Linked DNA regions of Homo sapiens: region 2 is linked to region 1. Evidence: fine-mapped expression QTL. A gene starts in region 1. The other region holds a variant in brackets. All regions are shown on one strand. Distances are from middle to middle.

Evidence for each region. PIP is the estimated chance that this variant, and not a neighbour inherited with it, causes the effect.
Region 2: its variant is fine-mapped to the expression of PEBP4 in pancreas (GTEx, PIP above 0.99).

The regions. Positions count from the first base shown.
Region 1 is chr8:22,924,728-22,930,101 of GRCh38, forward strand. PEBP4 (phosphatidylethanolamine binding protein 4) reads right to left here and starts at 3,187. Exons shown (of 7, transcript NM_144962.3): 1 at 3,096-3,187; 2 at 2,857-2,993. The coding sequence starts at 2,987.
Region 2 is chr8:22,881,069-22,886,442 of GRCh38, forward strand. All of the region lies in intron 3 of PEBP4 (phosphatidylethanolamine binding protein 4), which reads right to left. It overlaps PEBP4-AS1 (PEBP4 antisense RNA 1), which reads left to right. Exons shown (of 4, transcript NR_125433.1): 3 at 2,890-5,374. Among named protein-coding and RNA genes, the nearest start is that of PEBP4-AS1, 5.8 kb to the left of the region's middle. RefSeq lists an enhancer at 2,303-2,362. The variant G/C (reference allele first, on the strand shown) is at 2,843.

The sequences.
Region 1 (5,374 bases):
GTGGATTCACCTCCTGGCTGCAGGTTTGGAGAATCATGGTTCTTTCCATTCTGCGACTGAGCCCAGGGTTGGGACCGTCGGTGGTTTTGCTGGTCTTGTCTGGGGTATCTCAGAAGCAGGGAAGGTCTGATTCCCGAGAAGCGTTACTCTTAACAATGTCTCACAGCTTGTCACAGTACATAAAATTCCTCCCTTATAGATTAATACCTTTAGGCATTGAGTCCAATCTTTAAGAGTTCCCTGGTAGACCAAATGCCCACAAGAGGAGTGCCTTCTCTGGGGGATCTCTTGCCAAGGTCAGAGCCTGAGCCGAGTGGGGATCTTGAGGAGGGGTCAGTGCAGGAGGTCCTGCTGTCTCCTCAGGGGTCCGATCTGTCCTTGATGCATTTTTCATTTCATCATCATTCATGATGCTCTCTTCCAAACAAAAATCTTCAGTGACAATAAAGACAAAGCTCCTCTTTTGCGATGATGGCTTGAAATCAAAAGACATCTTCCTGGCATGCAACCTTAAGGTCATAAGTCTCTTTCTCAGACTGGGGGCCTGCTGGTGTATTCTGGGAGTCCTGAGAATGGGCCCCCTTGACTCGAGTCTGGGAGCCCTGAACCTGGGGTGAAGGTTGTCAGAAGCAGATAGGGAAAGAGCGTGAGTGTGGAGTCAGACAAGGGGGCTAGATCTTGGCTCTGCTACTTTTAAGCTATGTAAACACTGTGGGCAGATTTCTTAATCTCTGGGGATTCTTCATCTGCAGAATGGGGGTGCTAACACAGACTTTGTAGGTTCGTTACTGACAGTGAAAGGAGTCAAGGAGTCCAGGCACCGGCAGAGCACCTGGCACACAGAAGGTGCCCTGGGACTTCCCACGTGTGTCCCCATGCATGGGTCACCAGGGCACCAACATGTGATCTTGGCAGGGCAGAGCCTAGGGCATCTGGAGCCTCAGGCTGGTCACCCCCAATGACCCTACAGACATCCTCATTTCCCACAGTGTGGGAAACACCAGGAACTGCTGAGGTCCTCCTTAAGGGGCCCTTATTGTGGCCCAGGCCTGCTGTACCCTGGCCCAGCTGACCTCTCCTGGTTACGGGGGTGTTGACCTTGCACTGCTCAGAGCGAGAAGCCTGCCAGCCCCTCAGCTCACTCAGCAGAGCACCTAGAAAATTAGATCCCACTTGTGAGAGGCAACCACGTTTCTCTTCCTCCTTCCACGTGAAAACTTCACCCAGAACTGTTTTCTTGCTTGTTTGTTTTTTTGTTTGTTTTTTGAGACAGAGTCTTGGTCTGTCGCCCAGGCTAGAGTGCAGTGGCGCAATCTCGGCTCACTGCAACCTCCACCTCCCAGATTCAAGGGATTCTCCTGCCTCAGCCTCCTGAGTAGCTGGGATTACAGGTGTGCGCCACCATGCCCGGCTAATTTTTTTTTATTTTTAGTAGAGACAGGGTTTCACCGTGTTGGTCAGGCTGGTCTCAAACTCCTGACCTTGTTATCTGCCTGCCTCAGTCTCCCAAAGTCTTGGGATTACAGGTGTGAGCCACCGTGCCCAGCCTACACCCAGAACTATTTAACAAGATTTTTCAAAATATACTGACACGAACAAAGTTTGTTACTTTTTGTTGTTGTTGTTGTTGTTGTTTAGGCAGGGTCTGGCTCTGTTGCCCAGGCTGGAATGCAGTGGCGCAATCATGGCTCAGACCAGCCTTGACCTCCTGGGTTTAAGCGATCCTCCCACCTCAACCTCTTGAGTAGCTGGGACGACAGGTGTGCATCAGCATGCTTGGCTAGTTTTTAAACTGTTTTGTAGAGAAAAGAGTCTCTCTATGTTGCCCAGGCTGGTCTCAAACCCCTGGGCTCAAGTGATCCTCCACCTTGGCCTCCCAAAGTGCTGGGATTACACATGTGAGCCACTTCACCCAACAAAAATGTTACTTTTTAAGAAGGATTCAACTACATAATTTTAAGAGAAGACATGTATTTATGGTTCTAAAAGTAATGTTTGTCAAAAATGTTTTAAATAAAATTAAAAAGAAAAACAAACATTTTCATGAACAGTAATGTTTGTGAAAATTCAAAGGTACAGAAGAGAGTAAGTAGTCAAAGTTCTTTTTCCTCCTCTCTCATTTCTCACACGTGGGCTCAGTGGGGTGTCCCCCTCCTCAGCCACCAAACTGGCAGGGAGGTTTGGCATCAGTTTGGCCTGGGGAGTCCTCAGGATGACCCACAAGTCCACACAAATGAAGGCTTGCTTTTCTAACCGGCAGAGTTGGTGAGGAGAGAGCCGAACGCCAGGCTTTCCAGCTTACCCAAAGTAGAAGCAGCTTGTGCCCTTGGAAGGGAAGAAGCCAGCCTCGTCACCCAACTCCATCCAGTGCCATGATCCCTAAAGGGCCCTGCACAAACGCTCCTGGGTCCTATCACTGACAAAAACCTCTCACACAGGAAGGGTCTAATCATACACCTTCTTTCATTCAAATGCCTCTTTGTTGGGGTTCTGGGGAGAGGGGGCATTCAGGCTGCAGGGAGGGATGGTCTCTCTCTGGGTCTCTCTCTGAGGGTCTCAGCCTCCTGCCCCCACAAAGACCCCCCAGGTTTGGAGGGCCCAAGCAGAGCCGACCACATACACAGCCCTCCTGGTCCTGGGAGAGGTGCATTCTGGAAGGCAGGAAGGAGTCTGTTTCTAAATCCCTTTCTCAGTGCCATCCTCCATCAAGGTGGTCTCCAGATCTGACACGTGTTCTGCCTTCCCATAAAATCAGGCTCAGGAGATGGTGCTTCTTGGTTCTGGATATACCCCTCCCTGCCATCTACCTGCCTGGTAGCCTCTGTGCCTCCCGCCTCCAAGCCTGCCCTGACTTACTGGCAAAAGAGGGTGTCCTCGTCCAAGAGGGCCTCATGGGCACACGGGCTGTTCTCATCCTCGTCTCCAGTGACCACCATCATGAGACCCAGTAACAGTGCTGCTGTGACCAGCCTCATTGTCCAACCCATGGGCACCTGGAACAGAAAGAACTTTAGAGCGGCTGGATCCCCTGCAGGGGCCTTCCTGCCCACTACCTGTGCCCCCGACCCCAGGGGCCCACTTGGCAGGATAGAGACCTCTGGTTAAGCACAGGGAGAAGGACAGGCAGCTTCCAGGGCTCCGCAGCTAATCCAGTCCACCACCCGGACACAAGTACTTTGGGAGGACTGGGCCTCTTCCAAGTTGGACTCAATGTACGTTCCTGGCAGAGGCCCCTCCCCTGGCAGGACACAGCTTTGTTGTCACTCTTGTCCTGGCTGCCAGGGCAGAGAGCAGGCTGCAAAGTAGAAGTGCTTATATAAGCTCCTCGGTGCAGCTCCTTGTCCAGTCCCTGCTGTTGGCCCAGGGATGGTCAGCTGGCCAAAGGCCAGCCTGCTCCTTGGCTGTAAGGCAAGCCCTGGGAAGCTGGTGACCCCAGGCTCAGGGCTAGGAGTTGGGCTGTGCCCCTCAGACCGGCTCTGACTCTCCTGGCCCCCATTCTTCCACCACCTGTCTCCACAGCCTGTGAGCTTCCCCAAGGTGGAGGTGGTTGGACACAGTGACCTTGTGTAGGAGGGACTGCTGCAGGGGGTGGGGGTAGGTGCACCCCAGACCGAGGCCAGCTCCGAAGGGCCAGCTCCGAAGGGCCAGCTGAGGACAGAAGGGTGCGTCTGGGTGCACCTTGCAGCTGTGCTGCACTCAGCACTCTCCCAAAATAATCGTATCTGGAGAAGGAGGTCTGGGGAGCTGCTTGGGGCTCAGAAAGGGGTGGCCTGCCCCAGCAGTGCACTGGGAGGAAGGGGAGCCGGGGACTGTCGCCTGCATTCCCTTGGGGAACAGTCCTGCCACCAGGTGCATGTGGGACTCTGGTTTGAGCCTGAGTGGGCAGGGAGAAGAATAAAGGCGGCTTGCAACAGGCTTTCCAATAGCTCTGCTCTCTGCTTCTCAGAGGCGGGGGTGGGAGAGACGTGCCAGCAACTCAGGACTCCTGGCTTCTGCTCTGAGCTCTCTCTGGATGCTGGGAGGCCACTGTGTCTCCCTAGAATGCACCACTTTTCCTTTTCACAAACAAGTAAAATAATTCCTGTCACCGTGGTGCCTTGCTAAGGAATATGAGATCATCGCTGTAAAGTACACGCAGCTAGACCTTTAGAGAAACTACTTTCAGCATAGTCTGCTTTCTGGCTCAATTCCTGCCTCCAGGATCCCAACCTGTAGCAAAAAGCCCCCCTTAGGGGCTACATATTAAACACATTTCTCAATCATTAGGTTCTCTGAAGTACAACCAGGACTCCCCCTTGCCCCAACCAGAAAACATATTCCCAAGATCTCCCCTAGTGGACAGAGTCTAATAGTAGCCTCCTCACAAGATCATTATGAGAATGAAATCAACCAGGTTAAGCCCTCAGTAAGGTGCCTGGCACATAGTAAATGCTCAATAATTTATGAATAGTCTAAGTATTCTCTCACGGATCCATCCATTCATTCATTCCTTTGCAACCCACTTCACTCATAGGCATTAAGCACCTCCCACGTGCCTGCCCCATGTTGGGCCCTGGGGTATAGGTTGAGCATGCAGCTCACAGGACAGCCACAGCCAAGGAGATGCTGCCAGAAGGGCTGCCCAAGACCAAGAAACTCATCTTCCAAATGGCATCCACTAGAGAAGTCTCAACTTTTCTGGGTGTCAACTCCTTTAGCACAGTGATGGCGGCCTGGAAGAAGGGAGAGCCCACAGTGCAGGTTGCTGCTGTTGAGCCCACTTCCAGTGGCGGTTCTTCCTTACTCCACGTGCCAGGCACTTTTATCTCCGAATCCTCATGCCAATCCTTGGAAATAGGCACTATTATCACCCCATCTTATGGAGGAGGAGACAGCACAGTGACATTAGTTAAAACCTGATCTTGGTCACCAAGAAGTGGCAGACCTGGAATTTGAACCCCAGGCTCTGGTTGAACCTGTGGAAACTGGGTTGAGTCCATTGAGTCCATGCTTTGTTTTGAGACAGGGTCTCACTCTCATCGCCCAGGCTGGAGTGCAATGGGGTGATGCTGGCTCCTGCAACCTCCGCCTTCTGGGCTTCAAGGGATTCTCCTGCCACAGCCTCTCAAGTAGCTGGGAGTACAGGCACACCACGGCTCTGGCTAATTTTTGTATTTTTTGTAGAGACGGGGTCTTGCATTGTTGCCCAGGCTGGTCTCGAACTCCTGGGCTCAAGTAATCCACCTGTGTGCTCCCAAAGTGCTGGGATTACAGGCGTGAGCCACCGCGCCCAGCCCAGAGTCCACGCTCTTAACCACCTGGCTCCACTGCACTCTGTAGCTGCTCCATTGCCTCTCACTCACTCCCTCTACATTCCCTTTGCTCTTGGGAGAAG
Region 2 (5,374 bases), 44 kb before region 1:
AGGAAATTAAAGTGCAGGAGGGAAGAAGAAGCCAGGATATTCCTACCTCTCCCTCTTGGCGTCCAAAAGTGACTGTGGCCTTGAGTGTGTCCATGGGGCCCCACAGGGCTCCAGTGTCCCCAGGGATGCCCCAGTTTCTGGACTCTCCCAATCCCACATCCTCCCTTTCTCCATCCAGCCTAAGGGCGGTAGTTGCTCATTTTGGGGTGCCTCTCACCCTCTTTTTTGGCTCCTCAGACCTTCCTATCACCTACAAGGACTTGTGCCTTTCCAAGTGTCCAAGGCTGGCCAACTTACAGACCTGGATGCAGACAGGCCAGAGCCCCTCAGACTCGGGCTTCCTGCAGCTACTGTATTTATCTGTTCACTTTTCTTATGTCTGTCCTGCTCTGCCAGGCTGAAAACTTCCTGAGTGCAGGACTGGGACCATCTCACTCGCAGTTGTATGTCCCCAGTGCCTAGAGCCATGCCAGGTATCTAATAGACACAAAATACTTGTTAAGAGAAGAAATTAGTGGAAATCCCTTAAGTTCCAAATAGCGTTCTCCCCATGGGGCAATGCTTCTCCTTTGGGATTCACTCTCCCTCTTTGGAATAACTCCCCCTGGAATGAATCTCTGTTGCTGCCTGGATCACACTCAAGCCATCCAGTCCTACATGGATGATCCTGCCCATGACAGAGGGAGGCAGTAGCATACAGCAATTAGGGATGAAACTGTGGAGTGGGAGGCCACGCTCCATTACTACTTGTGTGGCCGTGAGCAGGTGGGGACTATTGACTTAACCTCTCCACACCTAAGTTTCCCCAGCAGTAAAATGGTGCTGAGAGTGGCTACTCTGTCCTCAGGCTGTTGTAAGAATTACTCAAGGTAATAAGCGTAGAAGCCTGGCTACCTTGTGGGTGTTGAATCACTGCCATCCCTGGCTCAATGGGGCAGATGAGGAAGGGGTTGTCAATGATACCTGGGAGGCTTCTCCAACATGTGGCTGTCACTGGTTTTCTGTGAAGATTAGAGAACCCCCCAGCCCTCCATCTCATTCACCTTTTTCCTGCTTCTCCCTATCCTTTCCCCAGTTCTTCAGAGAAAATAAGCATTTAGAACTGGGATCCATCCTATCACTTTTCAGGGAAGGAAATGGGGACACAGGAAATCACAGCAGCTTTGCCAAGGCCCACAGCCTGTTATTGGCAGAACTGGAGACATGGGATGTCTTAGTCCAACTCTAGGAAAGTGTGCGTCAACAGCACCAGTGACCCAGACAGTGCTGGCCACACCCAGGCAGCCCTGCACTGAGCAGAGGGGGGCGGAGCCAGCAGGGGGTCCCAGTTGAAGGGAGGTGGGTGCTTTTCTTTCTTGACCTCACAGATCCAGGATTTGGGGTGGTGTGGAGAATGTACCACGACTTTTTGTCATGCACGCATGGTGATGCTACCATGCCCTATTTTGATCATGAACAGAGGGAGGCCTCAAACTGGCAGAAAAGGGACCGTGGCTCCCGGAGAGAAAGCAGCCGCAAATGTGAAACTATGAAGGTGTATTAATCGTGTCTTTTTATTCTGTAATTTTTGTGCTTTGACATTTTGGGGCCTCACTGATCCTGGAGGGACTGCCCCTCCCAGGGCTAATTCCTAGAAATAGGAAACTCCTCTGTGAGAACAATTTGCTTATGAAAACCTACCAGTCCAGTGCCCATACCACCAACCACCTCCTCTATCAGATTTTTACACTCCAGGCCACTATCCACCTGCCCAAACCACCCCAGGGTGGGTACTAGACCACTAGGAACAGTCCTTATACCCAGAGCCTATTGAAATGATTCATACTAACCAACCCAACCCTGCTCACCCTACCCCACCTGTTCCTCCCACGATGAAGACTCCTACTCAGGTTTTTCCCTAGTTCCCTCTGCCTCCCAACCGAGCCTGGGGTATCCCCCATGTGGCCCTGCGAGACATACCCCCTGCCTCTAGGGATCTGTGATTATAAAACTTCCTCCTTCATGAGAGCCATTTCTGTGTCTGCATGTCTTCCCACACCTGATTAAAACAAATCCCCGACACCATCAAAACAACAGGGGCATCTATAGAAAGCAGGGATTATGATGCTTGCTTAAAGGTTCAGAGATTCGGACCTGGAAGGATGCTTATCACAATTATCCTTCATTATATCCTTGATCCAAACACTTTCTGATGTGAGAACAGCCCCAAGGAGGCAGCAGAAAGTCCCATCAGTTTCTCACACTGAGATCAGCCTGCATAGTGTTTGCCACATCACCACTGCTTTGCATCACCCATTAACACACCCAGATCACTGTCCCAATACTCAAACCCACTCAAAAACCCACACCAGTGACCTGATCTCCCTGTGCCCCAAGGGGCTCTGGCCAGATCTCAACCTCCCACCCCCACATCCCTCTCCAGGGAAGGTTGTATCTGCACACTTAAAAAAAAAAAAAGGTGAGCTGAAGGTGGCACAAAATTAGTTCCTTCGACAGAAAAATTTGCTCCTGAAACACTCTGCCAACCTGCTAATGAGTCGTCTTGAACCTTGCGTGGTGTTACCTCTAATTTTGCAGCCTGCTAGGATTTGAGTTCCGTGGACAGCCTCACATTTGGTTTGGAATTATAGGCTGAGTTGCTGCTCACTCCTATTATTGTGCTGTCAATCTTGTATTAGCGCATTATAATATGGTACACTGAATGCATCTGTTCTGTATATCACAGGGCCTCATTGTCATTTGTTGAATCATTTTGTCTTATATGATTGTTAAGCAATTATTTCATCTCAGGTGGCTTAAATTTTGATTACTGTATACTATTTGCGGGGGATACAAAAAAAAG[G/C]GGGGACAACTCCACCATCAGCTGATTTCACCAATTCTCCGCTCCAGGGTTCACACATATTTATGTTGGAGTGCAAAGGCTTCCGATGCCCGGACACGTGTCCTCCAATCTGAGAAGGGAACCAGGGAAGGGGCTGGAGTTGATGCATCTTGACTTAAGGGCTGAAGAGTTGGCAATTTTGGAGGCCAGTGAAGAGCCACGTAGAAAATGTCCCGCTGCCTGCCATCATCAGCAGCTCCTCTTGCTCCCATCCTGCAGAGAGGGCTCCCACACAGAGAGCAGACACAGGGACCTCTTTAAAATGAAGATGAAATGCACCTGGTTCTACCACCTAGTTAGAAGCAGTTATGAAGGTTGAAGAGCTGTTATCTGAGATTTATAGCCCCAAATCTATGAGATAGACTCTCCTAATTAATAAGACAAGGATGACTAGAAAGTTGTGAAAACTACCTGGCAGGGCTTGGAGCCTGCTGTCACCACCACGATGATAGCACTGTCTTTGCTGCTGAGCCTATTAGAATGTCAGGATGTGCATTCTTCTCTCCTAGTGGGATGGCACGGTTCACCTGGCTATTACAGAGAAGCAAGTGCAGATCGTGACTTAAGGCTCCGGGAGGAGAGTTAATCAGGGAAGAGCTGGTTGACAAGACTCACTCAGTGCATGACTTGAGAGCACCAAGAGGGGGAAAGGGAGAAGAAAGAACCTCTTCCAAAGGCAGCATCCACCCCCTTGACAAAGGGCCATTTCCCCCAGCCCGGGGTGCTTTCTGACTTCCTTTGTTCCCCGATGAGCATTTTCTTCCTTGTCCCCAGCCTTCACATAAGTTCAATTCAACATCCTCTCTCTCTTCTCCCAATGTCCTCTCCTTAATTTTGCTGCATCCTCCAATGTGAATGTTTGCCTCCTGGTCTGGGATCTGTCTTATTCCCTTTATCTCACCTGAAAAAACTCTCCCCTTTAATCTCTGCTCATTCAAGTCCTGCCCATCCTTCAAAGTATGGCCAAGCTCACCTCTTCCAGAAAGCCCCACCCTGTGGTGTTATCTCCATCCTGAATCACAGCAGCACTTACTGTGAGATAACTATCAGGTTACATCTATCAGAGTTCAATGCACTCTCCCCAAATGAAGTGGACACTTGTTGGCAGTAAGAAGAGAAGCTTTTTGCACCAAGTGGTGCATTCAATGCAATGCAAGGAGACTGTGACGATACTGAAATGAGTATTACCCGGCCCCAGGAGATGAACACCGTCCTTGCTTGATGCCAGTTCATAAAGAGAGCTCTTGTTTATTGAGAGCTTATGAGTGCTGAGGAATTCACATAAATCATCTCATCTAAATTTTCCAACAATCATGAGATGGTTTCTCTTATTTCCTCCTTTTACGCATGAAGAAACTGGGGCTCAGGAGGTTAGATGACTTTCTCAGAGTCACACAGATAGTACAGGGCTGACCCAGAATTCAAGCCCAGGTCTGGCAGACTCCAGCACCCGCCCTTTGCCTCCACGACCAAGTACAAGCAGCAGGCTGGCACTGGCCTTTCCCTGCTATGACTGCCGAGCTGGGTTACACCTGCTGCTGGTCCCCAGCACCAGGCACACGACGTAACTGTGAGTCCTCCGAGTATGTGAGGGAGCTGGCACTCACCTTCTGCCTGAAGCAAAGGAGCTGTGCTCTTCCGTTTCAGTGTGAAAAAGCCTCAGAAGATGCCCAGCTTAGAAGGACACAAGAGACAGTCTGTGGACAACATCTCCACTTCCTGGCGTCCTCAGCACTGTTGCTAGTGAAGCTACTCTGCCCAAGGTCTCCAGAGAGCTTCTGAAAGAAGTCAGGACTCATGCATGCAGATGAATACGCCTCGTGGGTATTCACCAGGTCCTCTTGGGAAGCCAGCTCTGTGTCCCAGGCACACCGTCTGTGTGCAAGAGAAGGGGAGCACCTGAGTTTGGGAACTGCTTTCGTACCAGCTTATAGGCCACCCCAAGAACCGGCCTCCTGGCTTCCTAGTCACAGACCGCCTGCAGGGTTGACTTATGCATCCTTTTGCAGGAGACAGGCTCACTTCTCTCCTGTGACTAACATGGAATTACGGGTTAAGGAGGGAAGTTGTACTCACCTGTTGATTCATTTATTCACTCACTTGCTCACTCATCAATCATTTCTTCAACAATGAAACCCTTACTAGACAAATACTGACTCCCTGCTCCAGAATAACTATCTGTTCGGTGCTAGGACTGTCAAATGAGTAAGCGTTTCTTCCCACAGGCGTTCAGGGTCTATTTCTGCACTTTACAGACAGGCAAGACAGAAGTGATCAGAAGCGGCCACCAACCATGGAGTTCAGAAACACGGCACAGTTCTGGAAGAGGCGAAAGGCGGCTCTTCCATCCATGCTGGTCAAGAGGAAATTCAACACACCTCACAGCCATTGAATCTGACCAGGCGTGTAATACATCCCATCGTCTTGTCAGTTAGCAGCTGTGGGACCTTGAAGGCTTCTTAAATTCCCCAAGTCTAGACTTTCTTATCTTTA